3 linked regions of the Homo sapiens genome follow. The protein of the gene in region 1 purifies or fractionates together with the protein of each later gene. This does not show direct contact. Each region holds a gene or a part of one and is shown on either strand. Other genes may lie near its edges.

Region 1 (3,657 bases):
TTCTTTTTTTTTTTTTTTTTGAGACGGAGTTTCGCTCTTAGTCGCCCACGCTAGAGTGCAGTGGAGGGATCTCGGCTCACTGCAACCTCCGCCTCCCGGGTTCAAGCAATTCTCCTGCCTCAGCCGCAGCTGGGATTACAGGCGCCCACCGCCAGGCCCAGCTAATTTTTGTATTTTTAGTAGAGACAGGGTTTCGCCATCTTGGCCAGGCTGGTCTCGAACTCCTCACCTCAGGTGATCCGTCCATCTCGGCCTCCCAAAGTGCTGGGATTACAGGTGTGAGCCACCGTGCCCAGCCCAATTACAGCTCTTAAGGCTTGAATTTTTCCTGAGAAGCAGCTGGGGATAAGATTTACTGGAGGCCCAGCAGCACCGGACTAAGTGCCTAGGACATGGGACATGCACCAACTGAATCTGTACTTCCTGGGGGGGGGCTAAGTGGCAGACCAGCACTGGGCCACCAGTACTATTTTAGGTAACCATGCATGACACTTAAACATCTTAAACGTTACTTCATAAATTTCTAAAATTTCATTTTTGTATTCCTTAATCGAGGGATTTTCATGCCTTGGCCCCTAGGAAAACAACTGTTGGATTCTTCTACTCCACCCCACCCCTTTCTAATGTACTTACTTCTGCTTTAATCTTTATTATTAACCCATGAGGCCCCACACTCTGTTCTGTACACAGTTATCATAAAGCACCTTTTGCATGCTGTGGAACCAAGGACACCACAGTGAACAGAGAGACCACAAACCCAGAAACTGGTGAGGAAGTGATGGACTCATTCTGTGCACCTCAGTCCTCCAAATGTCAACCCATAGACTATCCCAAGACCTTTAGGGCAATCCTTACCACTGTCTATTGCAGGAAATTAGCTGCTCCACTTCATGGAGGAGAAAATGGAAGCTCTTAAGTTCACCACCAGGCAGAGGTGGAACTGGATTCTCATTCCACCCATCTCATTCCACAGACATGACTGACCCAACCCACTCATGTGGAGCTGCATAATCCCTATCAGCTGGAGCTCCAAATGGCTTTCAGTCCAGCAACTGAATGAGCCCGTAGCAATGTAGTCACCTCACCTACAACTGTCTGTCTAATGGGTTGTGAAACAAATTCACTGAGGCTCAAAGCAAGGGGTTTAATCAAGAGAGATTAACTTCTTGAGCCTGAGTTTCTTCACCCAAAGTGATGAGATACCAAAGTCCAGGCACAGCATGTGGTAAGGGCTTGATGGGAGCTGCTGCTTTCTCCCTCTTGACACTATTTTCTTCTCTCAGGATACTTCTACCTCTCTGCTGCTTCCCTTCCAGGGTGACAAACAGGCCTTAGGCAGCTGTCTTCCTCACAGTGCTGTTTGCCAGTGAATGCTGATTAGCCAGGTATACCAGTCCAAAATATAACGAAAAGCAATGATCTTTTTAGCAGCTTGTGGGGGAAAAGTCAGAAGAGTACTTACCCTCAGCTCCCCTAATCCCTGGGCACAGTACCCCATCACTTTTCCTCCTTGTCTGGAAAGCTCTCAGCTCTCCTGTTCTCTCTCATCATTCCCTCAGTGCCCCTAAGCTCCCTGTTGGATTACCTTCTGCATCTGTCTCCTCCAGTGTACCACTGAGGCTGCCAACTGGGACTTGTGGATCTCACACCCCTAAGTAGAGGATCTGCCAAAGGCTGCTGATCATCTTTACGTTACTCAGTTTTTGAATCAATGACAGTACCATCATTTCACGAAGGCTGCCCACAGTCCCAGGAAGCAAATGTACACCATACACAAAAGAAATATGCCTGGTGCGGTGACTCATGCCTGTAATCCCAGCACTTTGGGAGGCCGAGGTGGGCAGATCACAAGGTCAGGAGTTTGAGACCAGCCTGGCCAATATGGTGAAACCCCGTCTCTACTAAAAACACAAAAGTTAGCTAGGCGAGGTGGCGGGCACCTGTAGTCCCAGCTACCTGGGAGGCTGAGGCAGGAGAATCACTTGAACCCAGGAGGTGGAGGTTACAGTGAGCTAAGATCACACCACTGCACTCCAGCCTGGGCGACAGTGCAAGACTCCATCTCAGAAAGAAAAAAAAAAAAAAGAAATTCATGCTGGGATAGGCTAGGAACCCTGCCCAGGGTTGCAGAGTGGATGATCCGGTTTGGTTCTGTGTCCCTACCAAATCTCAGGTTGAAAAGTGATGCTGTGTTGGAGGTGGGGCCTGGTGAACCTTCAAGAATGGCTTAGCACCATCCTCCTGGTGGTTAAGTTAATCACACGAGATCTGGTTGTTTAAAAAAGTGTGGCCGGGCAGAATGGCTCACGCCTGTAATCCCAGCACCTTGGGAGGCTGAGGTAGGTGGTTCGCTTGAGCCCAGGAGTTCTAGACCGGCCTGGGCAACATGGCAAAACCCCATCTCCACAAAAAAAAAAAAAAAAAAAAATTAGCCAGGCGTAGCGGCATGTGCCTGTAGTCCTGGCTACTCAGGAAGCTGAGGTGGGAGAATCGCTTGAACTCAGGAAGTCGAGGCTGCAGTGGGTCATGATCGCACCACTGTACTACCGCCTAGGTGAGAGTGAGACCGTGTCTCCAAAAAAAAAAACAAAACAAACAAACAACAGTATGCGGCACCTTCTTCCTCTCTCTGGCTGCTGCTTTTCCCATGATGTGCCTGCTCCCTGCCTTCCACCATGAGTAAAAAGCTCCCTGAGGCCTCCCCAGAAGCCAACCAGATGCCAGTGCCACCCTTGTACAGCCTGCAGAACTGTGAGCCAATTAAATCTCTTATCTTCATAAATAACCCAGTCTCAGGTATTTACAGCAATTTAAGAACGGCCTAACATAGTGGGCAACAAAGGAGCCGGGTTCCAAACCCTGTTATTTCATGTCCTTGACGCTAAAGGGGTCTCCCACAGCCACCATCTTAGTTTTCCTAGAATATGGCCTTTCATCCAGAGATCCACATGTGCACCACCCTCCTGCCTGGTATAGTCTTCCCCAACATCTTCGCCTGGTTCACCTTCCCCAACATCTTCACCTGGTTCGCCTTTCCCATTCAGGTCTGAGCTCAAACGTCACCTCCTCAGAACCATCTTCCTACTTAGTTCTGAACTACTGCTGCCCACCCGTACCTCGCTTGTCCCCCACCAATGTATCCCATTGTTTCCTTCTCTTTCCAACACTCATTACCATCCCAAATATCTGATTCATTAATTTATCATGTCTATCACCCTATCTAGAGCAGTGCTGTCCAATGGAACTTTCTATAAATGAGATGTTCTAGATCTGTACTGTCCAACATAGTAGCATTAGCTGCAGGGCCAATGAGCAGTTGAAAGGTGCCCAGTGCAATTGAGGTACTGAATGGGCAACTTCATTTTTGTTGATCCAATCAGCCATGGAATGGATGTAGGCCCAATGAAAGCAGGTGTAAGACCTGCCCCACTCATCACTGTGATCCAGCCCTGGAACAGTACCTGGAATCCTGGCAAGTGCTCAAGTAATATTTGTTGATTCAACACAGCTTCTTTGCAACATGAAAGCACACATAGTTTGCACCCCACTTGCTTCTTCTCAGCCAAGCCCATGTCAGGGACTTGTATTTCTGGTCCCATGGTAAAATGGCCCCAGCAGCATTTCTCCAGAGGTTGATGGCTAGAATGACTTCAGGAC
Region 2 (2,310 bases), about 55 Mb from region 1:
GGCTGCGGCCCTGACATATGCATCTTAAACACCCGACCATGTGCGGCTTCCATGAGGATTGGCCATCTCTGGGTTGGCGGAAGAGCAGGGGACCCATGGTTGTTGGAGACGGGCACCGTTTGAGCCACCAAACAGGCTCAGGGTGGCATGATGGCTCGGCAAGGTCTCAGAGCCAGGCAGGTGTGGAGCGAGAGGTGGAAGCCAGGCCTGCTAGCTTCCAGGGGCCCCTGCCACACTGGGAAGAGAGGGGGAAGCTGGCACAGCCTGGAAGGGACACCCACACCCGGGGAAGGAGTTTCGTGGGCATCCCGGCGTCTCCCACGCCTCTCCTAGCTCAGCGTCCCCCGGGGAAGCTCAGGCCCCAGATTTTGTTAGGGAGAAGTAAGCAAAGGGTGTTGGCTGTGCGCCCGCCTGTGGGACAGAACTGCAAAGTCAGCCACAAGCAAATGGGCCTTTTCAGGAGGCAGGAGGCACGGCAGCCACCTCCTCTGAGAAGCCGCCATGTCCTCCTCCCTCCCCGGGGCGTGGGGCTGTCCCCTCAAGCCTGGGTGGCCTTTGACGTGTGACCCTCCTCTCTGCACAGGCTCGGTCTGGGGTTCTTGCAGCTGGCACCAGCCCTCCCGGCCCCGGCCGCCCACCCGCCGCGGGGAAGATGCCGGAACAGAGTAACGATTACCGCGTGGTGGTGTTCGGGGCGGGCGGCGTGGGCAAGAGCTCGCTGGTGCTGCGCTTCGTGAAGGGCACGTTCCGCGACACCTACATCCCCACCATCGAGGACACCTACCGGCAGGTGATCAGCTGCGACAAGAGCGTGTGCACGCTGCAGATCACAGACACCACCGGCAGCCACCAGTTCCCGGCCATGCAGCGCCTGTCCATCTCCAAGGGCCACGCCTTCATCCTGGTGTTCTCCGTCACCAGCAAGCAGTCGCTGGAGGAGCTGGGGCCCATCTACAAGCTCATCGTGCAGATCAAGGGCAGCGTGGAGGACATCCCCGTGATGCTCGTGGGCAACAAGTGCGATGAGACGCAGCGGGAGGTGGACACGCGCGAGGCGCAGGCGGTGGCCCAGGAGTGGAAGTGCGCTTTCATGGAGACCTCGGCCAAGATGAACTACAACGTCAAGGAGCTCTTCCAGGAGCTGCTGACGCTGGAGACGCGCCGGAACATGAGCCTCAACATCGACGGCAAGCGCTCCGGGAAGCAGAAGAGGACAGACCGCGTCAAGGGCAAATGCACCCTCATGTGAGCCCGGAACGCCCGCCTGCCCGCCGCCCACCCCCACTGACCCCCGCTGCCTCCCCCAACACCGACACCCTCCTCGGCCTCCTCCTCTTCTCTCATCCTTCCTCCGACACCTCGGCTGGGGAAACCGAGGCCACCGCCCCCCCCTCCGCTGCCCCTGCCCACCCCGAGGCAGGGCTGGGGCTTTTCTTCCTCCCCTGCTCTCTCTCCACCCTCCTGTTCTGTCTGTACCCTCCAAAACCAAGAGCCGGAGGTGGCCCCCTTGTCCTGCAGATGGGAAAACAGGATGGGGAGCTGGCAAGAGGAGCTGCTTGTTCCCACCAGGACCAGAGGAGGCTGCGTTTCCCCGTTTCCATCTCTTTCCCTGGGGTGTCCCCAGCCAGACCTGCGCGTCCTGTCCCTCACATTTGATCACTGTGACCTTCTGGGGGAGGGGGGAGTTGAAAATGCACATCGGCCTCAGATATTTTTTTCTTTTTTCTCCTATTTGGTGTTAACATACACCCAAGCCCACCCGGCCCGTCGTGACCTCTGATCTGTGCCCACTCCTCCGGTTCCAGACGCACCTCTCTCCTCTGTCTTCACAGTGGGGTGTGGGGCCCGTGGGATGGGCCTCAGGCCACCAGGCAATAACCACAGGGCCTGCAGCAGTGCCCCTGCCAGCCCCGAATCCCACCCCCGGGACCAGCCACATCCACAGCACAACTGCCCCGCTGGAGAGGCACCATGGGCGTGGAGGGGCTTCCCGGACACCGCCCACCCGGGACCCGCCTCTTCCACCAAGACAGAGACGTTAGCAACGCATGGCGGGTGGGGACCTGGGGTGCTCAGGAGGGGGTACCCGGGGCCCCGGCCAGAGATACATCAATTACACCCCCGTGGGGGGACAGCCGATGGGAGCCAGCACCAGCAGGATCCGAGGGCGCCCCGGACAGAGGTCTGCCCCACCCACTTCCTCCCCACCACCTGTGCCCCAGAGAGCAGGGCCTGCCCGGGAAGGTGGCGTCCTGGAGTCGAGTGTACCTGCAGCCATGAGGTTCTGGGTGTTTTTTGAGAGAGTCTGAG
Region 3 (3,657 bases), on another chromosome or scaffold:
GCTGATTAAGGAGGAACTAGAAGAAATGTTAGTGGAAAAACTGTCAGATCTAGATGTGAGTAATTAATCTTTTTAATTTAAGGGGACCTATGCAATAAGAATACAGACAATTGCTGTATTTAGGATCCTAATAGTAATGTTCCTCAGAGGCAGGTGTTCCTACGATGACTTTTCTTTCTTTCTTTAAAAACAAAACAAAACAAAACAAAAAAACAAAACACATTCATCATTGATTTCTGCCTTGGGAGGACCTTATTTGTGGTCAGGGAGGTGACTTGTCGAGTCTCCAAGTCCTCCTCTTGTAAGTGCCCTCATATCCTGTGCCAGTTGTTTTAGGGAAGCACGGCAGATGTTGTTTCATCTCCTTACGTAAGGCCAGTAGCTAATTTTACAAGCTGATGATAAGTGTAAGGAGTCATTATAGGTTAAGTAGAAAAGGGATGCAGCACATGGTTACCTTCATGCAGTTTACTGCTTACCTTGTGTGCCATATCTGTAAGGTCAGTGGTTTTTATCTTGGGATCTGCAAACCACCTCTGTCGGAATCCCTTGAAATGCTGGTTACAAACTACAGTGTCCTAAGCCTCACCCTAGATCTAGCTCAGAATCTCTAGGGAGTTACCGAGGAATCTTTTTAACCAACTTTCCAGGCGAATCTTATACCCTATAAAGTTTGTGACCCCCTGCTTTAGGTCTTAATTGCATTCTTATTTTGTTAAATGTTCTAATATATCAACATTTTCACAGGACAGTTGATGTCTTAAACATTTTGATGTTCCAAATTTATTACTTTCTGGAAGATTGGGGTGTAGATAAATTTCACAAATTTTTCCAAGATGGAGATTTTCTTTGATGGCGGTGGCTAACATTGTTAGTACTTTGCCACCATATATAGATTTTAAGTCATGTACTTGAATTGTTCTTTTTCTCATTTAATGTATTATAGAAATTAATGATTTGGAAAAGTTGCAGTTTGCTTAAACAAAGTGTCAGACAATTGGTTAGTGGTAGATCCAGAGTTAATTTCTAATATCCTAACTGCCAAGTACTGCTCTACTTGAATCTAACTGAAAAATCTCTTTGCTTCTTCACTGAACAAGTAATTTCATTATTTCCTCTGTTTCTGGCTGCTTTGATTTTTTTTTAATAATTCAGGTATTTTTTCTGCTTTGTAATATCCCACGGACTTTAATACAGGTGTACAGCTATGAAAACAAAAGAAACAAGTTATATATGATACTTTGTACTTTGGGGTACTGGATATCAGAAGAAATCCTAATGTTTATGGCTGGTATCAAGATGAGGGATGTGGAGGTGGTCAGTGACTTCTTGACCTAGTTCAGAAGCAAGGCTGAGTTCCACCCATAGTGCCCCTTTGTAGGTGCAGAAGTCATTGAGAGTCTGTGAGATGCAATCAAGAGAGTAGCTGAGCACAGAACGCCCAGGCCAGTGACTGGAGAGGAGCATGGAGCTCTGCCCACCCAATATCCTAGGTAGCTGAGTATTTCACCCTTACTAGAAGAGTGCCTTCTCTTTCATTACATCATAGGAAGCTGTAGTCAAAGTAGTTCTTTTAATATTAATCTTACTGGTGAGATTTTTAAAAATTTCAAACTATTAATGGCAGATTTTTACAATAAAGGCAGTAGTGACAAAGATGAGTGTGATGTTTAACGCCGACAAAAAACATAAATAAGGTTATAAAAAACTGAGTTTCACAATCCATATTAACTAAGAATCTCAAGCATTAGTTGTTTCCTTCTCCATAAACACTTTAGAGTGATTATTCTGGCTTCTAATTTTAAGGGGTTAATTCCAAGTTGTTTACTTTCTAATCACATGTTCAAGAACTATTAAAAAAAATGCACAGAGGAGCAAGGATAATTTATTTCAAGAGGTTGCCCTTTAAGTCAAGTATCTCTTGAATTTTTAAATAGCTTGATTGTTCGGTTTTAAAGGAAATCATAAACATTAAAGTAACACAGCTTGAACAGCCAAAGATATATTTGCCAAATGTATTATGAAATATAATTTAAGAGGTACATTTTCTCAAAATCAAACTCTTTCCATATTACTATACATAACTTACTTGAAATTATTTATAAAGCTCCCCTTGATACAGTTCTAATAAAAGAGAGCAAATTACACTTGAAGATCATCTAAATACTTTTTGAAAGTGAATTTAAATCTCAATTTCATAAACATAATACAGAGAAATTGATTTTTCTTTGAATGATAAATCTCTTTGTTTCTTGAAAGAAAAGATTTGGCACTAAAGATACGCAGGAAAAGTGATGCATCTGCATGCTGTTTTAAAAGCAGCGTGAAGATGCAGAAGTGTCATCCTGTCAAAATTCATCAGGAAAAGCAACATTGGAAAGATCAAGTATGCAAAAAATAGAAAAAATTTAGCAAATGCAATTACACTTGCACCTTCTAATGAATTTTTATTGTCTGCAGTATATGCAGTTCATTCGGCTGCTAGAAAAGTTATTGACATCGCAGTGTGGTGCTGCTGAGGAAGAATTTGTGCAGAGGTTTCGAAGAAGTGTAACTCTTGAATCAAAAAAACAGCTGATTGAACCTGTACAGTATGATGAGCAAGGAATGGCCTTTAGCAAAAGTGAAGGTAATGACATTCTGTGGAGAGAAAATAAATTCAGTGAAGGTTGAAAAACTACAATTATTTTTATTTGCTATTGCTTTCTGGTATCCATTAGATTTTTTATTTGTTTATTTTTGCTACCGTTACTTTGGATTTCCTAATTTTTAAGATTCTGTTGAAGTTTTTCAAAACTGAACTGTATAATATCCTAAGAAAAAAATGTGGATGCATACCTATACAGTCATATTAACACTTTTTCTTTTCACACATTTATATTGTTGAATCTTTTAATTTTCACATTTTAAGCTGCTAGAATCGGTAAAATATTTATAATAAAGTTTTCTTTGCAAAAAATGAAAATGCTCAATGAATCTGCATATCAAATGCCAAAACTATGTAATGTGAAAACTTCACGTCCTTAACTCACATTTTTCTTGTTCAGAGCCATTAGACGTAGTCCAACTTTTACGACTTGAACTATTAAAATATTTACAACTCTTAAAAGATTTCACGTCATTGTCATTTTTAACTACTGTGGTGTTTTCAAAGAAATGTGACCTTTCCTGAGTATTTTTTTATTTCTACTAGTTATATTTCATCATACTATTTATATATTTCTAAAACTTATGTTGTTAGATATATTCTTACTGTTTATAAAAGAAGAATGCTATGTAAATTGGTTGTGGATTCTCGTAAGGGAAATGAATATAAATTACTTTGTTGGTTGTTCAAACTAATTTAAAATCATTGTAGTGTTTCTAAAATGGAATTGAAGAACAAAATTACCCCACAATGAGCTTTATTGCATCTGTTGTGCTGTAGTTTACCTGCTTTATTTTTGTTTGACTTGAAATAATAGTTATAGGACTTGCTTATGTACAGTGTTGTGTATTATTTTGGGGAAACAAATTTTAATGTAGTTTTACCTGTCTCAAAGCGCAGGTCTTCAAGATATTTACTAATAGGAATTTTATATTTTTGAAGGTAAAAGAAAGACTGCAAAAGCAGAAGCAATTGTTTATAAACATGGAAGTGGAAGAATAAAAGTAAAT

The links.
Region 2: the proteins of ZNF274 (region 1) and DIRAS1 purify together in Homo sapiens (affinity purification with mass spectrometry; one large-scale study listed by BioGRID and IntAct). This does not show direct contact.
Region 3: the proteins of ZNF274 (region 1) and MRPS9 purify together in Homo sapiens (co-immunoprecipitation; one large-scale study listed by IntAct). This does not show direct contact.

What each region holds. Positions count from the first base shown.
Region 1 is NC_000019.10:58,199,943-58,203,599, reverse strand, and holds part of ZNF274 (neurotrophin receptor-interacting factor homolog), read right to left. Parts: intron 1-3,657. UniProt on the Homo sapiens protein: Probable transcription repressor. Specifically binds to the 3'-end of zinc-finger coding genes and recruiting chromatin-modifying proteins such as SETDB1 and TRIM28/KAP1, leading to transcription repression.
Region 2 is NC_000019.10:2,716,149-2,718,458, reverse strand, and holds part of DIRAS1 (GTP-binding protein Di-Ras1), read left to right. Parts: exon of another isoform or gene 1-147; coding exon of another isoform or gene 148-180; intron 181-583; coding exon of another isoform or gene 584-652; coding exon 653-1,249; 3' UTR 1,250-2,310. UniProt on the Homo sapiens protein: Displays low GTPase activity and exists predominantly in the GTP-bound form.
Region 3 is NC_000002.12:105,089,941-105,093,597, forward strand, and holds part of MRPS9 (small ribosomal subunit protein uS9m), read left to right. Parts: coding exon 1-55; intron 56-2,460; coding exon 2,461-2,629; intron 2,630-3,589; coding exon 3,590-3,657.